Homo sapiens: one gene and its partners. The protein of the gene in region 3 purifies or fractionates together with the protein of the main gene of each other region. This does not show direct contact. Each region holds a gene or a part of one and is shown on either strand. Other genes may lie near its edges.

Region 1 (3,500 bases), on a different chromosome or scaffold from region 3:
TGAGTGGTCTCTTCATTATAATAAATGTCTTTATAAATGGTTAGGATTTCATGGTAACTAAAATTGGTGGGTCAGTTTTAAGTTGTATTTATGCAGTTGAGGATTTTTAATCTATTAATTAAACAACTGTTTGAATTTACTTAAAAAAAAAAACTCAGTCAAGATGCTGTGCATTTTGCTAAAGCTGGGCTGGAGAAGTGGGGAGAGATACAAAGATGAGTATAAATGAAGGTTTTCTTTTAGCCTGTCAGAAAAGAGTAACTCTACTGATTGGTTGATTTTGATAGTTATCGGTAGTGTAGTTTTCCTTAGTTTCCTACTAGAACCCAAAGGGTGGCTGATGTCTTAAAAGTCCTAATCTTGTGGCCAGAAATTTATGAGCTTTTATTTACTCTTGGTCATCACTTTGTAATACATGAGAGTATACTCATTATACATTATACCACAATTTCTGTAACTTGGTTTTTGTCACCCCCGCCTTTTTTTTTTTTTTTTTTTTTTAAGAGACGTAGTCTTGCTTTGTTGCCCAGGCTGGAGTGCAGTAGCGTGATCTTGGCTTACTGCAGCCTCTGCCTCCCAGGTTCAAGCAATTCTCCTGCCTCAGCCTCCTGAGTAGCTGGGATTATAGGTGCCTGCCACCACATTTGGCTGGTTTTTATATTTTTAGTAGAGATGGGGTTTTACCATGTTGGTTAGGCTCTTCTTGAACTCCTGATGTCAAGTGATCCTCCCGCCTCAACCCCCCGAAGTGGTTGGGATTACAGGTGTGAGCCACTGTGCCCGGCGACATTTTTGACATTTTTTAAATGACATTTTTGATCAGGATTGTTTTTCATGTTACTTCCATCTTAAAGGCACTTCGCTGTCTAAGCTTCAATTCTTAGTTCTGCTTTTAAGTAGCTTTTTTTATTCCACACAAAAAGCAGAGGCTACTGAATATACAGCCTTCTTGGTGAGGATTATAAAGGGCTTTAGTTTGGGTGGTGATGTCTGTAGTAAGAATAAAAAGTTAAAATAAAAGGTAGCTGATGGTGGTGGTGTATACAGAGATTAGTAGGGTTTCTAAGAAAGAATAATAAAAATTTGTGAAATTGTTTCTATTTTTCTGATTTTTTTCAAAAAAGATAATTGTATTCATGGATTACTTGTGTAACTATTGTTACAATTTTTAAAAATAAAAGAATGATAATTAGGCATGATGAAGATTAAATCTTTTTTTTTTTTTTTTTTTTTGAGATGGAGTTTTTCTCTGTCACCCAGGCTAGAGTGCAGTGGTGCGATCTCGGCTCACTGCAACCCCTGCCTCCTGGATTCAAGCAATTCTTCTGCCTCAGCCTCCTGAGTAGCTGGGATTACAGTAGCCACCATGCCTGGCTAATTTTTTTGTACTTTTAGTAGAGACAGGTTTTCACCATCTTGGCCAGGCTGGTCTCGAACTCCTGACCTTGTGGTGCACCTGCCTCGGCCTCCCAAAGTGTTGGGATTACAGGTGTGAGCCACTGTGCCCGGCTGAAGATTAGATCTTTATGACTAATTGGATTTTTGGGTAAGGGATTCAGAACTTGATAGATGCTTCTTGACTTAAAGTGGGGCTATGTCATAAGTCAAATGAGTTTAATTCTCAGATAAACTCATCCTAAAGTTGAAAAATTGTAAGTTGGGCCACCTGTAATTGGGGACCATCTGTAATTGGGAGAATGCTAGTGACATTGAAATAATTAGTTATCAGTTAGACATAAATATGTACCTTTTGAAAATTTCCCATAGAAAATTTGAGTCATTATTGAAAATACATTTTCAAATTCTTTTGATTCATCAATAAGTTTGTTTGCAAAAGTTAATGACAGTGGCATAGAATTGAGTTTGTAGACCAAATTACATGGCATAGATATGTATTTAGACGAATATGACCTGAAAATGGCCCTTTTCTGACCTAATGGTGGGAATCAACTCTTGTTTGATGTTTCTTAAAAGATTCTACTTTATTAATTCTGCTTGTTTTAGTTACATCCAGAGCATTCCAGTTGTTAATGAAGAACACAGAGGTGATTTTTCCTATATTGGAAATTTGATGACAAAAGAATTCATAGGTCAACAATTGATTCTAATTATTAAGTCTTTGGATACCAGTGAAGAAGGAGGAAGGTATGTCTAAATGTTAACACTCATTCTAATTTGCCCTTCTAATTTCTTATATTGAAATATAGTCCTTTTACAATATAACTAAACATATTTACCCTAGCTCTCTAAAGTGGTATAAAAAGTTTTCTTTTCCCTTCTACATATTTCCATATATACACATACATTTATATTTCTAGTTCAATTTCCTCAGAATAAATCAATGAAATTGCAGTTTTTGGTTAAAAGTTTCTGTTTAGATTTATTAAGGCTAGTAGCATTTTCTAAAAGGTTTAATCATTTCTGGTATTTTGTCATTTTATCATGTTGATTTATTAAAAATCATAGGGTGTTTTATAAAAATTTTTTTTTGTGTGGAATAAGAATATTTGACCTAAAGTCTGTACATACAGATTTTTGTACCTATTATAGTGATAAACCTAAGTGAAAGAACTGAGGCAAATGTAATTAAGTTTGCAGAGTAGGTGAATGTTAGAGATAAAACATGTTTTGTCATAATAATATTTAAATTAGTTCTTTTTGACTGCAGAAAAAAACTGCTGGCTGTTTTACAGGAGATTCTTATTTTACCCACAATCCCAATATCCCTGGTTTCTTTTCTTGTTGAAAGACTACTCCACATCATTATAGATGATAATAAGAGAACACAAATTGTAAGTAATTTTCCTCATTGTTGATAAAGAGGTTTTGGTCAATGACATTGAATACTGTCTTATTTTCTGTTTAGAACTTTTTGTTTTGTCTGTTTTGTTTTAGGTTCGTCTCTTTAATGAGTTTTAAAATTTCTTAAAACCATTATCTATCTCTTACATACACAGAATATTTGAAAAATGTCACCTTCTTCCTCTTAGTGTACCTGTTATTGTTGAATCAGTTTGAAATGGAGCAGGTTTGGTAGGAAGTTACAAGTGGGGATATGGTTTTGTCCATGAGGCACTGGGTGCTAGTGTTTTTGAGAGCTTACTCAAATTGTACATACTAGGGTTTAGAATCTCATCTGACACTTTCTGGCTTTGTGGCTTTGGACAAGTTATTCTGCTGTTTTACTTGTCTGCAAATAAGAATAGCAATGAAATCTACCTTTCATTTTTCAATGAGGTATTGTTCATAAAGGTATTGTTCTGTATTGCTTGATAAATACAGAAATAATTGTTTACTATAATACTATTTCAGTGTTATTTTTTTCTGGCATAGCCAAAAAAGACAGATCTGTATCATTTATTTCATAAAAATCACATAATTTCAGTTGCAGGTTAATTCACAGATCATCTCTTCCATCCTCTCCTTATATATACACCCCTTCTACAACATGCTTAGTTGTTATTCAGCATCTGCTTAAATACTTTCATTTGGGAGGCAGC
Region 2 (2,215 bases), about 37 Mb from region 3:
CGGCCAGGCAGAGGGAAACCTGGTGGTTTAGGCAGTGGCAGGGAAAGGATGTGTGGTGGGGAAAAGTTTGCAAGAGTGAAACCATGAAAGGCATTTTCTGCTTAGCCAGGATCAGCAGTCTTCTGCTGCCTTCTTAATGTTTCACCTAAGTTCCCATAGTTGCTCTCAAAAAGTTTCTTGGCCCTCGTGGGCCAGTGTGGAGGGGCTGTATCATCATTCATCAGGAGCGTCACTTGGTGGTTTAGGGGGAAATAATCTATTCTTAAGATTGAAGAGAGTGCAGGATTTGGGGGGTTGACTCTACATCCTTCAGTATCAGAGCTTATCTCCTTGTCTTACCTCCTAGGAGACCCTCCTGTTCTTAACTGTGGGCGATGAGAAAGGTGGTGGACTCTTCTTACTGGCAGGGCCACCTGCGTCTGTGGAGACCCTGGGGCCCAGGTAATTCTTTGTGGACTCTCTTGCACATGTAGTAGAGCCTGTATCCTACAAATACATTCCTTTACTGAGTCAAAGGACCATCACATCTGCGATCTCATTTAATTCACATCATGGGCATGTGAGGTGGGCTGAGCAGAGATAATTATTACTACTGTCATTTCCAGTTTGACAGTTGAAGGTCTTTTGGCTCCACATCTCACATGTATGTTTTTGTTTTTGTTTTTATGAAATGTGTTTGTTTTTGTTTTTTGAGATGGAGTCTTAGTCTGTTGCCCAGCCTGGAGAGCCCAGGCTACTCAGCTCACTGCAGCCACCACCTCCCAGGTTTAAGCAATTTTCCTGCCTCAGCCACTCAAGTAGCTGGGATTACAGGTGCACATAACCATACCCGTCCAATTTTTTGTATTTTTAGTACAGATAGGGTTTCACCATGTTGGCCAGGCTGGTCTCGAACTCCTGACCTCAAGTGATCCACCTGCCTTGCCCTCCCAAAGTGCTGGGATTACAGGTGCTCACCCTGCTCTCTGGAGATTAACATAATTTATCTAGCCCAATTCATAGACACTGATGTTGTTTCCAGTTATTCACTCTTATGTGATGATGGTACATATATCTTTGTGCATATGTGCAAGTGTTTTTTTGAGACAAAGTTTCACTCTTGTTGCCCAGGCTGGAGTGCAATGGCACCATCTCGGCTCACTGCAACCTCTGCCTCCCGGGTTCAAGCAATTCTCCTGTCTCAGCTTCCTGAGTAGCTGGGATTATGGCGCATACCACCATGCCCGGCTGATTTTTTTATTTTTAGTAGAGACGGGGTTTCATCCTATTGGTCAGGCTGGTCTTGAAGTCCTGACCTCAGGTGATCCACCCACTTTGGCCTCCCAAAGTGCTGGGATTACAGGTGTGAGCCACCATGCCCAGCCTATGTGCAAGTGTTTTCAAGAAAGATTCCTAGAAGTCATCTACTCTTCTTATCCCTCTCCCAGTCCCTGGAAAAAGACTCAGAGCTGCCCTTGTTTTTTTTTGTGACTTTTCCCTCAAAGTCTCCCTGACTATACCTCTGTTCCCCAGGGTGGCTGAGGTCCTGGAAGGCAAAGGAGCAGGGAAGAAAGGCCGTTTTCAGGGCAAGGCCACCAAGATGAGCCGGCGGATGGAGGCGCAGGCGCTTCTCCAGGACTACATCAGCACGCAGAGTGCTAAGGAGTGAGGGCTTAGGGCACTCACCTCCTGTTTCCACAGGAATCTTTTGGTCAATAAAATAGATTGACTCAGAATGGTTGCGCTACCACTTGTATTTATATGACTAATTCGTACTGTATACTCCATTGTGCTTGTGTGGTTACTTTCCGTTTATAAATAGATAATTTTCTAATTTAGTTCATGCACTGTAATGTTTAGAAGGTGGTGGATTAATTTATACCAAACCTTGTGCTTTTGCACTCAGTTGGATAAGAAATGAACATCTGATCAGCTGAGTCCACTGCTCCCATAATTTTGTTATAATCCACAAAGGCACATGGCTTTTTCCCGCCCCTACCGCCCCACCCCCTGAGATGGACTCTTGCTTTGTTGCCCAGGCTGGATATAGTGGTGTGATCTCAGCTCACTGCAACCTCTGCCTCCCGGGTTGAAGGGATTTTCCTGCCTCAGCCTCCAGAGTAGCCAGGATTACAGGTGTGTGCCACCATGCCTGGCTGATTTTTTTGTTTTTGTTTTTTGTTTTTGTTTGAGATGGAGTCTCGCTCTGTCACCAGGCTGGAGTGCGGTGGTGCGA
Region 3 (3,500 bases):
GCCAAGCAGGTGGTTGAGATAAGCAGTGAAGCAGAGTGGAAATAGCTTTGGACTGGAAACCAGGTGTAGCTGTCCCACTGACCAGCCATAGAGCAAGTCCTTTCTTTTTTGCACTTCAGTTTCCTGAGATAGAACTTTGATTTCTTTCTTTCTTTTTTTTTTTTTTTTTTTTTTTTTTTTTTACATGGAGTCTCACTCTGTTACCTAGGCTGGAGTGCAGTAGAACTTTGATTTATGAGACCTCTTTCTACTCTGGAATTTGGTATCCTTGGGAGATGCCATATTAAAAAGGGCTCAATTGAGAAGTAAAATGTGAGTTTTTGTTATAAAATGTTTGTTGTAGAATAGTAAGCAAAAAAGAAGAAAGTGAAATTGTCCACTATCCCGACACTTGGGTATAGCAGTGGCCACCATTGTTAACTTTTCAATGTGTATTCTTCAGTCTTTGTGTACTTTTTAAAAAACGCTGAGCCAGGCAAGGCTGCATACACTATGATTGCGCCTGTGAACAGCCACTGCTCTTCTTGGGCTAGGCCTTTAACATAGCCACTGCATTCCAGCCTGGACAACATAACACATTCCTGTAATCCCAGCACTTTGAGAGGTGAAGGCAGACGGATCACTTGAACTCAGGAGTTTGACACCAGCCTGGGCAACATGGCAAAACCCCATCTCTACAAAAAATCCCAAAATCAGCTGCATATGGTGGCATGTACTTGTAATCCCAGCTACTCGAGAGGTTGAGGTGGAAGGATTGCTTGAGCCCAGAGGGTTGAGACTGCAGTGAGCCGAGATCGCACCACTGCACTTCGGGCTGGGGGACAGAGTGGCACCCTGTCTCAAAAAACAATTTTTGTAACCTTGTAAACTTAGTATGCCATAATTGTTTTTTCCACCCTGAAGTGTTATAAAATTATAACAGGTGATATTCCATGGTATGGATATGGTGTAATTATACTAATCCCTTGTTGATGGACATTGACGTTAGTGCTTGGTTTTCTCTTCTGTAATTGGAGTGGTGAATGTCCTTGTAGCTAAATCTCTGCACACATCCATGATTATTTTCAAAAGATAATTCCTAGAAGTAGAATTCCTATTTTGTTGCCAAACGCCTTCCAGAATGGATGTTCAGGTTTACATTTCAACTAGCATTTATAACTGTTCATTTCCCCACATCCTAATCAAACAAGGAAGGCATTTTATTTACCCTTTCCTAGTTGAATAGTTGTAGGATGATGTCTCATTGTTTATGATTTTTAAAAAATGTTTTGAAACAATTTCAGTCCTACAAGAAATTACATATGCAGTACAGGTCTCACTCCATTGCCCAGGCTGGAGTGCAGTGGTATGATCATAGCACACTGTTAACTCAAGCCCCTGGGCTCAAGTGATCCTCCCACCTCAGCCTCCTGAGTAGCTGGGACTACAGGTGCACACCACCAAGCTCTGCTTATTTTCTTTCTTAAATGTTTTTTTTTGTGGAGACAAGGTCTCTCTATGTTGCCCAGGCTAGTCTCGAACTCCAGTCCTCAGGTGATCCTCTTGTCTCTTGGCCTCCCAAAGCACTGAGATTACAGGTGTGAGCCACTACACCCCACTTTTTATTTTTTTATTTTTTTGCAATTGTTTTCTGGCACAACAAGATATACCAGGCTCATCCTGTGCTCTCCTTGATCCAGTCCTAGAATCAGCTGTTTCTTCAAGGAGCCCTGGTTCCTTTAAAGTGGAGAATGGTATTTAGAAGCCAAGATCTGGGTGCTAGATGTGCTCATTGCTATTGGAGTGTTGCTATTCCCAGATCCTCTCAGTGAACAGAGCAATGGAATTATATGTATGTATGTATGATAATGTATACATGTGTATATTTTTAGATCTATGTATTTTTTAAAACATGGGTTTATACTATACTCCCATTTCTAGTACTACCTCATGGTTCATTCTAGCTTTTTTCCTATTGGTTTCCTCCAATATTTTATTATGAAAATTAACAAACTTATAGGAAATCAGAAAAAAATTGGAGTGAGCTTCATGTAGCCACCACATAGATTCTGTAATTAATAGTTCCCTATTCTTATTGCACACCTATCCCTACATCTAGCTTTCCAATCCAAAATGTATGTGCCATTATATGTATACTTAATTCCTTGTATACTTGAGTGTGCATATCAGTAACTAGAGTTTAGTATTTATGTGCAACAAAATACACAAATCTTGAGTGTGTCAACTGAGTTTTTATAAATGCACACATCTGTGTATCTATCAAGACAGAAAATTACCATCAACCAGAAAGTTCCCTGATGTCCTTCCCTGTCAATCATTGTACCTGTCCCCCAAGAAGCAATTGCTATTCTGGTTTTGTTCCTCTGTAGATTAGTTTTTCATGTTCTACAACTTCATGAGTAGAATTGTACAGTATGCATGTACTCTTTGGTATAAGGCTTCTTTCATTCAACATAATGTTTTTGAGACTCATCTGTGTTCTTGTATTTATTGGTAATTTGTTCCTTTTTATTGCTGAATATTATTTGGTTGTATGAATGTACCACTCCTTTCCATCTGCCCTTTCCATCTGTCCTAACCTGATTCTTATTATGATTAATGTTTTACCTACCTAATTACCCCTCATATGTAACCAGTCTTTCGGGATAGTCTCCACCTCTCCCATATGGATGCCTTGCTTATCTCACTCACCCTCAGATTCCCCAGACCAGGCTGCCCTCTTACAGGGATGCCTCCCCATCCTACTCGGGCTAACATCTCGTCAGGCCACCTCCATGTGTGCATGGTCTGATGGGGCTCTTGACTCCCTATACCAGGCTGTGCCCCCACCCCCATCCTGCTAATGTTTGGGCAGTAGAAGGGATCTCAGTTTTGTTTTTGTTGTCGTTGCTGTTTTTTGAAACGGATTCTTGCTCTGTCACCCAGGCTTGAGTGCAGTGGCTCAATCTCGGCTCACTGCAACCTCCGCCTCCTGGGTTCAAGCGATTCTCCTGCGTCAGCCTCCCTAGTAGCTGGGATCATAGGCATGCGCCACCACACCCGGCTAATTTTGTATTTTTAGTAGAGATAGGGTTTTGCCATGTTGGTCAGGCTGGTCTTGAACTCCTGACCTCAGGTGATCCACCCTCCTCGGCCTCCCAAAGTGCTGGGATTACAGGCATGAGCCACCACACCTGCCGGGATCTCAGTTTCTAATATACTTTCCTTTGATTATTGTGAGAGCAAACATTCTCACGTTTATTGACCACATGGATTTCCTTTTTGAATTGCATATTCAGCCCTTTGCCCATTTTTTCTGTTGGTATGTTTGTTTTTATTGTTAATTTGTAAGAATTTTAAAAACTCATTTTGAATTATACTATTTTCTGACTCCAGTATAAATCAGAAGTTTTCAGATACATTTCTAATTTTATCAACTGTGGAGGATTACAAGTAGAAATATAAGTGCAAATTGAGGATGCTGCTTTAATGGTTCCTTCTTTAGTGAGGTTTTGAATTAC
Region 4 (4,219 bases), on a different chromosome or scaffold from region 3:
TCAGGGGTTCGAGACCAGCCTGGCCAACATGGTGAAACCCCATCTCTACTAAAAATGCAAAAATTAGCTGGGCGTGGTGGCTTGTGCCTGTAACCCAAACTACTCAGGAGGCTGAGGCAGGGGAATCGCTTGAACCAGGGAGGCAGAGGTTGCAGTGAGCCAAGATCATGTCACTGCACTCCAGCCTGGGCGACAGAGTGAGACCCTATCTCAAAAAAAAAAAAAAAAAAAAAAAAAAAGAATGGCAAATTATCTCCAGTCCAAACTTAACTCCCAGGTAAACTGACTGACTCCTATTACTAAAAGCAACAAACAGCAAACAGGGAACCTACAACCAAATTGAGTTTGGTTTCAGAGAAAACTCAGAGAACTCCCAAGGCCAGCCTTAACCAAAATCACCCAGCAGTGCCCCAAAATAATATGAAGCTATTCTAAACTGAAGCCTTCACAGACAATTTCCTGGCATACAAATGCAGTTATAGAGGAGATGGCGTGTGGGTGACATTATACACAACCACCCTGTGAGATTTAGTATCCCTATTTTAAGGGAGGAAAGTCTGAAAAACTGACTTGTCCAAGGTCATCTGCTGCCACAGTGTCACAATTCCAACCCCTCTTCTCCTCCATATCAGTGATTTTAACACCATAGGGACTGCACACTCTTTTATACAAATCTCATTTTTAAAATCTATTTGAAACTCCGTCTAAATTGTACTTAAAAATAATGGCCTCAAATAATATTAACATATAATCTGTCTATTGGAGATCACTAACGTGTTAATCTACTCTTGCCAGAATAACTGATTATGCGAAACCTGGAATAAAGGTGTTCCTGCCAAGTAGCTTGAGATAATTAAAGCAAGCTGTTTAAACAAACAAAACAGCAAAAAGTGCATCTACTTATCCATATACATCAGAACTTTTTGACACTGTGTAACTAAACCAAAATAAATATACTGAATGCTGTGTTCACCGTTTTTCTGACGGATGAGAACTTTAAAGGTAAATGCTAATACATACGTGAATTTGGAAAACAGTACCTTTTGTATATGTAGGGTCCTGCATTTATTACAGAGTTCAACCAATAGAAAAGGCCGGAAAACCACAGCTGCCAGTGGTTTTGAATTATTTTCCCCCTTTTAAAGGCCTAACTTGATATTGAGTCTTCACACAGATGGCTGATTTGAAAAATATTAAGTAAAGCAAACAACTATTACAAAGTAGGCCTTCTCATATTATGCCATTTTCTACTACAGAAAACAAATGATAAGTATGTTTCAGCCATAATAATTTTTAGACACAAATTTGTATACCTGAGAGGTATTTGTTTACAATGTTAGGTCTTCAGACTGAACAGATGGGAGCGGCATTCCTCATCAAAGGAAGACCTTAAAAATCCTCCGCCAAAATCCTGCCTTTTGCCATATGATGCAACCATAGGCTACACCTGCTTCACCAATTTGTGTACCCAATAGTCATTCTCATGGCAACACAGCCACCCAGTTTCTTGGAAGCAGCTATGGTGAAACTGAAAAATGTGCCAGGGTGAATTCTAGAGGACATGGAATGCAAGCTTACTAAATAAATATGCAAATTTCAAAATAACAACTCAGAAGGAAAACTCACTTCTAAAACATTCTTGACCATATGAAACAAAAACAGACACAGGCGCTACCACAAGCTGGAACTCACGACTTCACTATCTTTTCCTGCCCGGATGCCCTCTCCTGTGTGATGAAGAATTATGCTCGTGGGCAGTGAAGAACACTGCTGACACTTACATAATATCAGAGCAGAAAGTAAATACAGGAAGGGCCAGCTTACAGCCTCATCACGTGGTGGCCAGGGCAGGCGGTGCTAAGGGTGATGTTGACAGATGTGTCAACCAAAACAAAGCAAGGAAGTCTTGCTAATAATGGAGAGGCTGCCGTCCTAAAACCAGACTGAAGGCGACTCCTGCCTGCTTCCCTTCTCAGTCGCTCTTGGTCAGAAAGTGCACGGGGCTCCACCCCGGGACTCGGCAATGGCTGCTCGGTCCAGTGCGACAGGGAGGGGCACGGCGGAAGGTGGCCAGGGAGGAGAAGAGCCACGTCCTGCTTCTGGGTGTGGGGCCTTCCGTCCACAGTGTCTGGGCGGTCCCCAGGTTTCTCAAGCCACGGCCCCGGGTGGCACCTGCCCGCTCCTCTCCCTGCAGAGAGGCTGCGTTCAGAAACCTCATTTTGCAGCACGGATGTTTTCTTACTTCTAGCCATTGGATGCAAGCCCAATTAGGAACACCGAGTTGCCTGGCCGCTGGGGGAGAAACAGGCTTGGAGGGTGAAATGACTCGCCCAAGGTCAGGCTGCTGATTACTGACGGCTACTGGGCAACAGAGGGGCGCCCGCGTCGGCGGGGCAGGGAAGGGGAGACCACAGCCCTGGGGGAGGTGACCGGCCGAGCGATCGCAGCCGTCAGCGGGAGGAGGCCACAGGACAGGGCAGCCGGACGTGGCATCCCCAGCAGAGGGCGGGGGGCCACAGCCTAGGGGCGGGAAGTCGGGGCCGCTCTCACCGGACGCTCGGGGTAGACGCGGCTCAGGTGGGCCTTGAGGTGGCCCACACTCCAGCCGCGGTCGCCACTCAGCTCCAAGTCGCGGTGGCGCTGGTTGGGGCTCTTCACCAGGAGCGTGACGGGCTCGGGTTCGGTCTCGGACTCCATGGCGGCGGCGGCGGTGTCGGGGCTCCGCTGCGCTCCTAGGTGCCAGGCAGGCGGCGTCTCAGCCGCCCGCAATCTCTGCAACGACAGTTCACGTCTCTGGGGCGCGCGCCCCCGCTTCGGGCGCCTTTTATAGAAGCCCCGCGCCCGGCTCTGCGGACAGAACGCTCTGTGGCTGCCGCCCATTGGCTGAGGCGGAGGCACTCTCCCAACGTGGCCCAATCGGCGTCCGGATCCGGGTGGCAGAGGGCGGACCGAGCACGTGGGCACGGGCTGATGCAACCCGCCGCGTCTGCGTCACCCAGAGGCGCGGCTGTGCCCCGGGAACCCGGGTTCGGTGGCCATGTTTGGGTGCGCTGCAGGCCGCGCGGGGAGCTTGGTCTGAGACCTGCGAGGCCCCCAGCTCGGGTGGCTGAGGGCGCCCGAGGCAGGGGGTGGGGAGTGGGGTATCCTAGCAGACCCCAGTTTAGCAGTCTCTGCAAATTCTTTCCTCACAAAGCCGCACCCCCACCCTTTTTCACCCCAGGTGTCAGTGCCCACTTCCCCTTTTCCTGCCTCTGTGGCCCCACGTGGAAACCTACGGGGAAGCCCGTCCTACAGGGGAAGCCTACCCACTCGAACCCTCAAAGAACGGCTGGGCGACCCCGAGTGCAAGCCCACCTAGGAGAACTCCACGTGCTCCTAAGAAAGACAACGAAGGAGCAAGGCCAGATTTTCCTTGGGCTGGGAGGATGGAGGCATCCAGGCAGCTGTTGCCAATTTCCCTGGGCCTCAGACTTGAACGTTTGGGACATCACCCTAATGATGATTGACAAGTCAGCCACAGTCCTGCTCACACTGGAGTCCCCCTCAAAACGCGTCACTTTATAAGATACTCACACATGCACCCGTTAAATTGGGGCTGAGACGAGGAGGGCGGGGTTCTCCGATTCCTGAAGTGGGACCATAAAGGCCTCTTTATTGTAGGCGTTCCCTCCTCCTCCTCTGTAGGAAAAAAAAAAAAAAAAAAAAAGGCTTGAAAAACAAAACTGACATTGCCCCGGCTCCCTCCTTGTTCCAACCCCCTTGGGACATCTGTTTTTTCAGGTGTTGTCAGGAGCTTGTCAAGGTCAGGAAGGTAACAGGAGGAGCCTGGTCTGGTTGGTGGGTATATTCATCTGCTGCAGCTGCCATAACAAAGTGCCACAAACTGGATGGCTTAAGACGGGGTCCCCAACCCCCCTGGGCCACGGACCACTATGAGTCCCTGGCCTATTAGGAACCAGGCGGCACCGCAGGAGGTGAGCCACCAGCGAAGCTTCATCTGTATTTACAGCTGCTCCCTATCGCTGCATTACCACCTGAGCTCAGCCTCCTGTTAGATCAGGGGGCATTAGATCCTCACAGGAGCCGAACCCTATTGTGAACTGTGCACGCAAGGGAACTAGGCTGTGCTCCTTACGAGAATCGAATGCCTGATGATGGGAGGTGGAGCTGAGTTGCTGATGCTAGTGCTGAGAGTGGCTGCAAATACGGATTAACATTA
Region 5 (3,500 bases), on a different chromosome or scaffold from region 3:
TAATCCTCTCTTCCACTGTTTAATTCTGCGTTTCTAGTTGACTGCTATAACATTTCTTTTAAGATACTGTACTGCCACTTCACATTCAGAATGCCTGAACCAAATACCTTTTCTCTTTTTATCTTTAGGACATAAATAGAAAATACTTTCTCTTTTGGCTTGTTCCATCCCTGTTTTTAAACCTTAGGTTAGTATACATACAATGAAATGCTCAAATCCTAAGGATACCTTTCTTTTTTTGACAAATGCACAGTAACCCACACCCAATCAAGAAACAGAACATTTCCATTACTCTAAAAGGTTTGCTTGTGCCCTTTCCCGGTAATACTTCATATTATAGAAGTCCTGGGCTGTGCATGGTGGCTCACACTGTAATCCTAGTGCTTTAGGAGGCCAAGGTGGGAGGATCATTTGAGGTCAGGAGTTTGAGACCAGCCTGGGCAATGTAGTGAGACCCATATCTCTTAGAAAAATCCAGTGGCATGCATCCATAGTCATAACTACTCTGGAGACTGAGGCAGGCGGTCACTTGAGCTCAAGAGTTTGAGGCTACCAGTGTGTGATGACTGTACCACTTCAATCCAGTCTCAGTGATAGAGCACAACCCTCTTAAAAAAATAAAGAAATTCTGAGTATATCGTTTTTCTTCCAATCTGTTTTCTTTGACTAAGCATATTTTGATATTAATTCATGTAGTTGTACTTATCTATAGTTTGTTCTTTTTATTGCTGAATAATATTTTTTCCACAGTGTATCCATTTTCCTGTTCATAGATACCTAAGCTATTTAAGAAACTCCAAACAATCTTCTAAAGTGTCTTGCTATTCTATATTCTCACCAATATATGGGAGTTCTTTGTGGTCCACATCCACTTTAACTTTTGATATTGTCAACCTTTAAAATTTTACTCATCCTAGTAGGTGTAGTTTATGTGCCTTGTTTTCAGGTTTCTTGTGTGTTTGTATATGTGTCTTCTCAGATAGAATGTAAGCTTCTCTATGATAGGACCTGTCTTTGTCTATGTATTCTCCCCAGCATTCATCCTGTCATCTTGCACATGGTAACTGCTTGGTGAATATTTATTGATGTATATTTTATAAATATGCTTCAAGATGAATTCATGATTAAGGAATAAATTAGTTTTGTTGAATGGAAATGTACATACTTTAATATATCCGAATTATTTACATTGTATTTCAGGTCAGTTTACGTTGCGAGACATGTATGAGCAATTTCAAAATATCATGAAAATGGGCCCCTTCAGTCAGATCTTGGTTAGTTATCCTTAAAACTTTATACCTTCTTTTGTTTTCATTAAATTTTCTAAAATAGATACACTTGCTTTAATTATTTTTACATTCGGGTAAAAATATATCTAAGACTTAGTGTCAATATTAAACCTAATAGTTAAATGTGGACATTTTGAACCATTAATCTTAAGCTACTATTGACTTTATGTTTAAATCTGTTGTAGGGGATGATCCCTGGTTTTGGGACAGATTTTATGAGCAAAGGAAATGAACAGGAGTCAATGGCAAGGCTAAAGAAATTAATGACAATAATGGATAGTATGAATGATCAAGGTAAGATGGCAGATTATTTTCCTCAGGCAAAAATGTTCTGAGTATCAGTAAGATGAGAGTTTCACTGTATTCTTGTGGACAAGATGGGGAGAAATTTAGCCTGAAAGATTATTTTTAGGTAGATTTGTAATAGCTTGAAAGCTCTTACTCAAAGGGTTATGATTATTGGATTGCCTTCATCGTTGAGAGAAATGTCTAGTATAATACTTCTCCAAATGAGTTACAAGGAAAGAACACTAGTTCTTCATGATGTTCATAGAGTTAACTTAAAAGGAGAACTCTGAGTCAAATGTGGTGGAATGCTAGTTTTTAAAGAGTTAAATTTGGCTGGGTGAGGTGGCTCACACCTGTAATCCTAGCACTTTGGCAGGCCAAGGTGGGAAGATTACTTGAGGCCAGGAGTTTAAGACCAACCTGGCCAAACGTAGCAAGACCCTGCCTCTATGAAAAAAAATTATTTACTGAAAGTCTCTTCACGGAGCTTTAATATTGCTAACATACATTGGGAAACTAAGAAATGGATAGCTTAAGCAATGCTTAGAAAATTCTTTCTGTCTGAAACATAAGAATTCAGTTTTCTCAGTATACTGCTCTGTTCCCCTGACCCTATAAAGGCATGCCTCAGAGATACTGTGGGTTTGGTTCTAGACCACTGCAGTAAAGGAAATATCATGCAATAAAGTCAGTCATACAGATTGTTTTGGTTTTCCAGTGTATATAAAAGTTATGTTTACAAATACATATACTGTAGTCTATTAAGTGTGCAAGAGCATTATATCTAAAAAACAATGTATATACCTTAATTTAAAAATAGTTGATTGTTGGCCGGGCGCAGTGGCTCACGACGCCTGTAATCCCAGCACTTTGGGAGGCTGAGGCGGGCGGATCACCTGAGGTCAGGAGTTTGACACCAGCCTGGCTAACATGGTAAAACCCCGTTTCTACTAAAAATACAAAAAAATTAGCCGGGCGTGGTGGCACACACCTGTAATCCCAGCTACTTGGGAGGCTGAGGCAGGAGAATCGCTTGAACCCGGGAGGCGGAGGTTGCAGTGAGCCGAGATTGTGTCATTGCACTCCAGCCTGGGCGACAGAGTGAGACTCTGTCTCAAAAGAAAAAAATAAAAAAATATAGTTTATTGCTAAAAATGCTAATGATCATCTAAGCCTTCAGTGCATTATAATCTTTTTGCTGGTGGAGGGCCTTAGCTTGATGTTGATGACTGCTAACTGATTACAGTGATGGTTGCCAAAGGTCAAGGTGGCTGTGACAATTTCTTAAAACACAAGAATGAAATTTGCCCCATTGATTGACTCTTCTTTTCACAAAAGATTTCTCTGTAGTATTCGATGCTGTTCGATAGCATTTTACCCACAGTAGAACGTCTTCCAAAATTGGAGTCAGTTCTGTCAAACCCTGCTGCTGCTGCTTTATCAACTAAGTTTATGTAATATTCTAACAATTTGAACAATTTTTCATATCTGTGCTTTATCTACTATCTGATTTATTGTTATTTTTTTGTAGTCTCTTTTTCCTGAGCTCCAGGTTTTCATAGTAGCCCAAATAAGACTGTCTTTTTCTTTTAAGGTTGTTTTTTTTCCTCACTGTCTTTAACACTGCAAAAATGTTTGCATGTAGAATTCATAATTGCAGCATATCTAAAGTATCCATTCTGTGCCAGGCACTGTCCTGAGCACTTTAAATATATTAATTCATTTTATCATCATAACAACTCCTATGGCATATTCAGTTATTATCTGCCTTTTTCAAATTAGGAAACTGGGATACAGGGAAGTTGAGTAATTTGCCCAGTATAGAACCTTTCCTGACTTCCTTCCTTCTTTGAATTAACGCCCCTTCCTCTATTTGCTTAACTCTGTCGTATTACTTGCCACGATGTGCTGCTATTAGTTTAT
Region 6 (3,234 bases), on a different chromosome or scaffold from region 3:
GAGAAGCCATAATTTTGTGAGTTTTGCTGAGACCAATTCTCCATCCTGTCATAATTAGAGAACCCGATGCTGATTATTTTTTAAGTTCCTAAAATTGATCTTTTTTCTTTTCTTTTTTTAGGTACACAACAAAACATTTGAATGATGAGACTACCTCCAAGCAAATTAAATCCATGCTGCAATAACAATTCTGGAATAAGCACCTGCTGTAGACAGAAGACAGTATTCTGCAATGACTGAGAATGCAGTTTTTTAGTGATTGCAATTACTATCTCATTTATTCTTGCTTTTATTTCTTTCCTCTGTTCCTCTTCCCTCTTTTTTAATCATGTTCTTAAGACTTCTTTTCTGTGCCAAAATCAGTAAAGTTACACTCTGAAGGGATATCATCCTTTCAAACGGGCCATCTAAGGCAGCTAATTATGCATTGCATTGGGGTCTCTACTGAGAAAAATTCTGTGACTTGAACTAAATATTTTTAAATGTGGATTTTTTTTGAAACTAATATTTAATATTGCTTCTCCTGCATGGCAAAACTGCCTATTCTGCTATTTAAAAACCCTCAATGACTTTATTTTCTACTGCCGCCTTTTTCATGTGCAACCAAAATGAAAATGTTTAAATTAACTGTGTTGTACAAATGGTACCCAACACAAACTTTTTTTAAATTAGTAATACTTTTGTTTAAAGTTTTAAGTTTGCATTTTGACTTTTTTTGTAAGGATGTATGTTGTGTGTTTAACCTTTATTAACTAACGTTAAAAGCTGTGATGTGTGCGTAGAATATTACGTATGCATGTTCATGTCTAAAGAATGGCTGTTGATGATAAAATAAAAATCAGCTTTCATTTTTCTAAGTGTGGCTTGGTTTACTGATGTTTTGTTTTTAGGCTTCTGAAGTTTTCCCCATGTATGTTTTTATGGAATGCATATATACATTACATGATTTTTTCTTCTTTTAGGGGAGAGCCGGGTCTTTTCATTAGAATTTTGATCATTGTCTATGTATATACTTTTAATTGCCTTTAAAATTTTGCTAAGTATATTAAGACCAGTGATCTTTTCATTAACTGGACTTTTATTCTTGATTTACTCTTGTATGGATGTAGTAATGGAAGGAAAACCGCATCCTTGCTTGATTCTCCATTTCCAGGGGAGCGGGTAGCAACATGAAGGCAGAGTAGCCCTTTAATCATGGGAAGAGAGTGATTATAAGAGGGACTTCCCAGGAGAAAAGCAGAGGCCATGATCTCACTAGTGGTAGAAAACTAACAGGTTTCAGTTTAAGATCATAAAACCTAAATCATGAAATCTAAATCTCATGGTTGGAACAAACTACTTAAAGGTTGTCTAGTTCAACCATGCCAGTGTTTTAAATATTTAGGAATATCCGAGGTATAATACAATTAAAATGTTTAACCATGGAAGAGAATCACAGAGGCTTCCATCAGACCCTTCTGGATTAATAGGGCCAGATCATGGCACACACAGCTTCTCAAGATCACATCCCTGCTGATCTCTCTGGCCCTCCTGATCACTGCTCCCCCACTTCACACCCTGTCCTGCAGCCAGGCCCTACTGCTTGCTGTTCACAAATTGTTCCATGTGATGTCACTTCCTTAGCTCTGGTCTGGCTGGTCCCTGAACCTGACATTCCCTTCCTCCCCTTGTGACCCTCTAATGAACGCCAACTTTCATCTTTGAAGGGTTAGCTTCTATTACCTCCTTCATGAAGCCTTCTGGATAACATTGGCCATATCCTTCTAGGCATCTTCTAAGAATAGTGTAATAGGCTGAATAGTGGCCCCCAGGAGATACATTCACTGGGAATCTCCACGTGTGACATTATTTGGAAAAAGTTTTTGCAGATGAAATCAAGGACCTGGAAATGAGATCAACCTGTAGTAGGGTGGGCCCTAAATTCAATGACTAGCTCTTAGAAAAGAAGGGGAAATAGACACACAGAGCTGAAGGCCATGGGAAGATGGAGGCAGAGATTAGAGCAATGCATCTATGAGCCAAAGAACCCTAAGAATTGGAGGAAGTCACTAGAAGCTAGGAAAACAGGCATGTCACAGATTCTCCCTCAGAGTCTCGAGAAGGAACCAACCCTACCAATATCTTGATTTCAGACATCTGGCCTCCAGGATTGTGAGGGAATAAATTTCTGTTGTTTTAAGCCATGCAGTTTGTGGTATTTTGGTACAGCAGCCTTAAGAATCTGATACATGTATCTCGTAAAACACCTCTGATACTTACCTGCGCTTGTGGCTGTGTTTTCTGATACTATGAGAGCCGTAGTATCTGGATACCGGAGAGTCTGCGAACTTGAGAGAAGGGCCGTGTCTGATTTTCCTTCAGTGTCCCAAGGAAGGATCTTGCACAGTACCCAGATTTGGAGAGGTGCCAAGTGAATGCTTCGGTGGACTGAATGAATACAAATCAAAAATAATGATGCAGCGGGAATGGATGCAGTAAGATTGCTGTGGCCTATGCAGTTCACACAGTTCACACTCTGCATGTTGAGGAGTAAGTGGACAGATCTCTTAAGCCCAGGGGCTAGCAAACCGGTCTGTGGGCCAATTTACTCACCGTCTGTTTTTGTACAGCTTGTGAGCTAAAAATGGTTTTTAAAAAGGTTGAATACAATCAAAAGAATAATATTTTGTGGCATGAGAAAAGCATATGAAATTCAAATTTTAGTGTTCATAAATAAAATTTTATTGGAACCTAAGCCTCACTCATTTGTTGACACATTATTTATCGAGACTTTTGCATGACAGCAGCAGAATTGAGTTGTGACAAAGACCATATGGCCCTCAAAAGCTAAAATATATTTACTATCTGGCCCTTTCCAGAAAGAATTTTCCTCTCCTTCCACTAGATCCAAGAGTAGGTTTATCTGAGAACCTAGTGTGATTGAAGCTGAGGGCTGCAGTGTGATCAAAGGAGACAGCTCTGCTGCCAAAAGATGATTCAACCTCAGAGCTAGTACTTGCCAGTCAGATAGCCAAAGAGAGCAAGCAGGCATCTTCTCTGCCAACTCTATCTGTAGTTCTCATGTCTGTCCTTGGAGTGAAGTATTATGGGGGGTAGGCATGGACTTAGCCAGTGTATTAGTCCATTTGCACACTACTAATAAATACCCCAATACTGGGCAATTTATGAAAGAGAGGTTTAATTGACTTACAGTTCCATGTGGCTGGGGAGGCCTCACAATCATGGGAGAAGGTG
Region 7 (3,500 bases), on a different chromosome or scaffold from region 3:
TCTTCCCCTCCCTACCACGTTCCAAGATCTGTCCATGGTACCATTGCTGGTTGATCTTGGAACCCTGCTTCGGTCACCCCTCCTTTCTCTTCGCCCAGACTGGAGTGCAGTGGCACGATTTGGCTCACTGCAACCTCCACCTGTCAGGTTCAAGTGATTCTCCTGCCTCAGCCTCCCGAGTAGCTGGCACTACAGGCACGTGCCTCCACACCTAGCTAATTTTTGTATTTCTAGTAGAGACAGGGTTTCACCATGTTGGCCAGGCCAGTCTCGAACTCCTGGCCTTAAGTGGTCCACCCAGCTCAGCCTCCCAAAGTGCTGGGATAATAGGCAGGAGCCACTGTGCCCGGTCACTGTCACTGTCTTATTGCATGTTTTCTTCTTCATCTGCTTTCATAAAGGATAAACAGTGACTTAATAAAAGGTGTCTAATTCTCCCCTCCCTAGTGGCAATACGGTTGGACTAGAAGGTGAATTCAGTTGAGAACAGGGAACCTATCATTTCTGCGAGTGTAAGCTGGGGCATAGAACAATGCCAGGCATAAGGTAGGCACTTGGATGAATGGATGAATGAATAAATATGGCTTCTGTCCCCCAAGTTTACTGCTGAGCTTTCTCCTGCATATTGACTGAGCTCAGATGTCAAAATTGGGTCTGATCTGTAGTTTTTTTTTTTTTTTTTTTTGAGACAGAGCCTGTCACTCTGTCGCCCAGGCTGGAGTGCAGTGGCGCAATCTTGGCTCACTGCAACCTCTGCCTCCTGGGTTCAAGCAATTCTCGTGCCTCAACCTCCTGAGTAGCTGGAATTATAGGTGTGTGCCATCATGCCTGGCTAATTTTTTGTAATTTTAGTACAGATGGGGTTTCACCATGTTGCCCAGCTGGTCTCGAATGCCTGACCTGAAGCAGTCTGCCCGCCTCGGCCTTCCGAAGTGCTGGGATTACAGGCGTGAGCCACTGCGCCTGGCCTGGTCTGTACTTCTGAAGATTATTCCAAAGTACAGTAGGAACTTTTGGTAGGACTTTAGTTTTCCATCCAGGTATAAAATTTTGTGTCAGTGGTGGGGTTGCGCATGTTCAGTAGCTGCAACACTAGAAAGATGGCAAAGCAGGAGCAAAGAAAAATCCCTTTGGCTCCAGAAAATCTCCTGAAAGCAGAAGGCTTATCAAGGCCTCAAAGCCACCCAGTCAAAGTAGGCACTTTTGGCAAAGGAGGAGCAGAGGGAAGGAAAAGAGCTCAGGTTTAAACGACTGGAATCATTCCTACATGATTCCTGGCGGCAGAAACATGACAAGGTGTGTCTCAGACGACTAGAAGTAAAACCTCACACCTTGGAATCGCCAGATAAACATTCCTTGGCCTTTGTTGTACGCGTCGAAAGGATTGATGGTGTGAGTTTACTGGTGCGGAGAGCCATTGCAAGACTTAAACCTAAAAATGCAGCGTATAGTATGTAACCTTATGTGACCTGGGGATTTCCAAATCTGAAGTCTGTCCAGAAACTCATTTTGAAACGTAGACAAGCCAAGGTCAAGAATAAGACCATCCCTCTGACAACACAGTGATTGAGGAGCACCTGGGAAAGCTTGGTGTCTTTTGCTTGGAAGACCTCATTCATGAAATTGCCTTCCCAAGGAAGCATTTCCAGGAGATCTCATGGTTCTTGTCCCCTTTCCACCTCTCAGTGGACTGTCATGCTACCAAAAATAGTGGACTTTCTGAAGGAGATTGGCACACCTCCATCTTCTTGGGGGTGTGTGCATCAATCAGCTCATCCGCCAGCTGAACTAGAGCCAGGTGCCAAACTACAGTAAATTTTTATCAATGAACTGGAAGCTTGTGTTATTTTTGGGGGCGGGGTGGAATTTTTATCAAGTATCTTCAGAGAAGATTATTTCCTGCTTTATCTTCAAAAACTGTAAAGGAAGGGTCAAAGGAAAGACAGTGGCTGGCCGGGCCCGGTGGCTCACGCCTATAATCCTAGCACTTTGGGAGGCTGAGGCGGGCAGATCACCTGAGGTCGGGAGTTCGAAACCAGCCTGACCAACATGGAGAAACCCCGTCTCTACTAAAAATACAAAAATTAGCTGAGCGTGGTGGCACACGCCTGTAATCCCAGCTACTGGGGAGGCTGAGGCAGGAGAATCGCTTGAACCCGGGAGGCGGAGGTTGTGGTGAGCCAAGATCAGACCTTTGTCCTCCAGCCTGGGCAACAAGAGCGAAACTCCATCTCAAAAAAAAAAAAAAAGAAAAGAAAAGACAGTAGCTTACGTTCATGGCGGCACCTCTCATCACAGTCCAGTTCCAAGGAAAAATTCCAGCGTTTTCTACGTTGGCTGCTGCCTTGTCTGAAATCACATTTTGTGGAGAAAGGAGTCTTGCTTTGTTGCATCTTCTATCCTAGGGTTTAATGTTGGTGAATGAGTAACTCTAGCATTTGTACAAGGCTCCCTAAGAGTCCTGCAGCAGTCGACCAAGCCCGGGGACATAATTGAATCCGGAGATTCCTGGGGCCTTGAAAAAGGCTTGAAATATACATAGGAAGAAAGGCACAAAAATAAATGCTCACTTGTCTCTGCAAAAAAAAAGAAAAGAAAAATTGTGTCTCAAGTTCCTTCTGTAGTTGATAATTTATTCAGTAATCATTTTATAATTGAAGAAGAATATTCTGACTCTAAATCTTTCTAGATCAGTTACCTGGATGCTGAAGACATGAATAAATTTGTTTATTTTAAAAATCCTAGGGCCTGGCACAGTGGCTCATGCTTATAATCTTAGCACTGTGGGAGGCCGAGGTGGACGGATCACTAGAGCCCAGGAATTCAAGACCATCCTGGGCCACATGGCAAAACACCATCTCTATTTAAAAATTAGTGTTTTTAAACATCAGTGTTTAAAAATTAGCTGGGTGTGGTGGTGTGTACCTGTCATCCCAACTACTTGGGAGGCTGAGGTGGGAGGATCACCTGAGCCCAGGGAGGTTGAGGCTGCAGTGAGCCATGATCAGACCACTGCACACCAACCTGGGTGATAGAGTGAGACCCCCATCTCAAAATATACAGTAATAAATGAAAAATAGAAAATTCCCCAAATAAATAAATAATAGAAAATTCTAATGAAAATAAAAGGAGTTGAGTGTAACCGTTGAGTGTCTGCGCTGGGTGTTTATGTCTCATGTAACCAACGTAGCACTGTGAGCATGGTCATCCCGGAGACGGACTGTGATAAATCGTGTGCCCAGGATCCCAGAGTGCATAGGTGGCATATCTAGGTTTTGAACCAAGGTCTGTTGGTCTTTTATAGCTCAACTGGGTTGTGAGTTTGTTGAATTTCACTTTCCATGCTTTCCCCAACCAAACCAAAAACCAGAGGGGGAACTGAAAGCTGAGAGCCTAGTAATTGAGAAAAGGACTCTGGGAGGTGATGGTGTCAAAAAGCAGTCCAGGGAAGCTCTTGTGGTTGAGCACACAGCTCTGCCCAGAGCTTCCTAGATGCCAAG

Evidence for each region.
Region 1: the proteins of DERL2 (region 3) and NCAPG purify together in Homo sapiens (affinity purification with mass spectrometry; one large-scale study listed by BioGRID and IntAct). This does not show direct contact.
Region 2: the proteins of DERL2 (region 3) and AARSD1 purify together in Homo sapiens (affinity purification with mass spectrometry, with the first as the bait; one large-scale study listed by BioGRID). This does not show direct contact.
Region 4: the proteins of DERL2 (region 3) and HERPUD1 purify together in Homo sapiens (affinity purification with western blotting, with the first as the bait; one study listed by BioGRID). This does not show direct contact.
Region 5: the proteins of DERL2 (region 3) and SRP54 purify together in Homo sapiens (affinity purification with western blotting; one study listed by BioGRID). This does not show direct contact.
Region 6: the proteins of DERL2 (region 3) and CYRIB purify together in Homo sapiens (affinity purification with mass spectrometry; one large-scale study listed by BioGRID and IntAct). This does not show direct contact.
Region 7: the proteins of DERL2 (region 3) and POR purify together in Homo sapiens (affinity purification with mass spectrometry; one large-scale study listed by BioGRID and IntAct). This does not show direct contact.

What each region holds. Positions count from the first base shown.
Region 1 is NC_000004.12:17,820,979-17,824,478, forward strand, and holds part of NCAPG (condensin complex subunit 3), read left to right. Parts: intron 1-2,004; coding exon 2,005-2,145; intron 2,146-2,668; coding exon 2,669-2,792; intron 2,793-3,500. UniProt on the Homo sapiens protein: Regulatory subunit of the condensin complex, a complex required for conversion of interphase chromatin into mitotic-like condense chromosomes.
Region 2 is NC_000017.11:42,950,026-42,952,240, reverse strand, and holds the end of AARSD1 (alanyl-tRNA editing protein Aarsd1), read left to right. Parts: intron 1-346; coding exon 347-441; intron 442-1,512; coding exon 1,513-1,648; 3' UTR 1,649-1,715; downstream 1,716-2,215. Other genes in the region: PTGES3L-AARSD1 protein, read left to right, coding at 347-441, 1,513-1,648. UniProt on the Homo sapiens protein: Functions in trans to edit the amino acid moiety from incorrectly charged tRNA(Ala).
Region 3 is NC_000017.11:5,476,179-5,479,678, reverse strand, and holds part of DERL2 (derlin-2), read left to right. Parts: intron 1-1,679; coding exon of another isoform or gene 1,680-1,722; exon of another isoform or gene 1,723-1,830; intron 1,831-3,500.
Region 4 is NC_000016.10:56,930,723-56,934,941, reverse strand, and holds the start of HERPUD1 (homocysteine-responsive endoplasmic reticulum-resident ubiquitin-like domain member 1 protein), read right to left. Parts: upstream 2,801-4,219; 5' UTR 2,698-2,800; coding exon 2,551-2,697; exon of another isoform or gene 1,648-2,550; coding exon of another isoform or gene 1,627-1,647; intron 1-1,626. UniProt on the Homo sapiens protein: Component of the endoplasmic reticulum quality control (ERQC) system also called ER-associated degradation (ERAD) involved in ubiquitin-dependent degradation of misfolded endoplasmic reticulum proteins.
Region 5 is NC_000014.9:35,017,492-35,020,991, forward strand, and holds part of SRP54 (signal recognition particle subunit SRP54), read left to right. Parts: intron 1-1,200; coding exon 1,201-1,274; intron 1,275-1,474; coding exon 1,475-1,583; intron 1,584-3,500. UniProt on the Homo sapiens protein: Component of the signal recognition particle (SRP) complex, a ribonucleoprotein complex that mediates the cotranslational targeting of secretory and membrane proteins to the endoplasmic reticulum (ER).
Region 6 is NC_000008.11:129,839,093-129,842,326, reverse strand, and holds the end of CYRIB (CYFIP-related Rac1 interactor B), read left to right. Parts: intron 1-121; coding exon 122-185; 3' UTR 186-2,734; downstream 2,735-3,234. UniProt on the Homo sapiens protein: Negatively regulates RAC1 signaling and RAC1-driven cytoskeletal remodeling. Regulates chemotaxis, cell migration and epithelial polarization by controlling the polarity, plasticity, duration and extent of protrusions.
Region 7 is NC_000007.14:75,921,655-75,925,154, forward strand, and holds part of POR (NADPH--cytochrome P450 reductase), read left to right. Parts: intron 1-447; exon of another isoform or gene 448-546; intron 547-3,500. UniProt on the Homo sapiens protein: This enzyme is required for electron transfer from NADP to cytochrome P450 in microsomes. It can also provide electron transfer to heme oxygenase and cytochrome B5.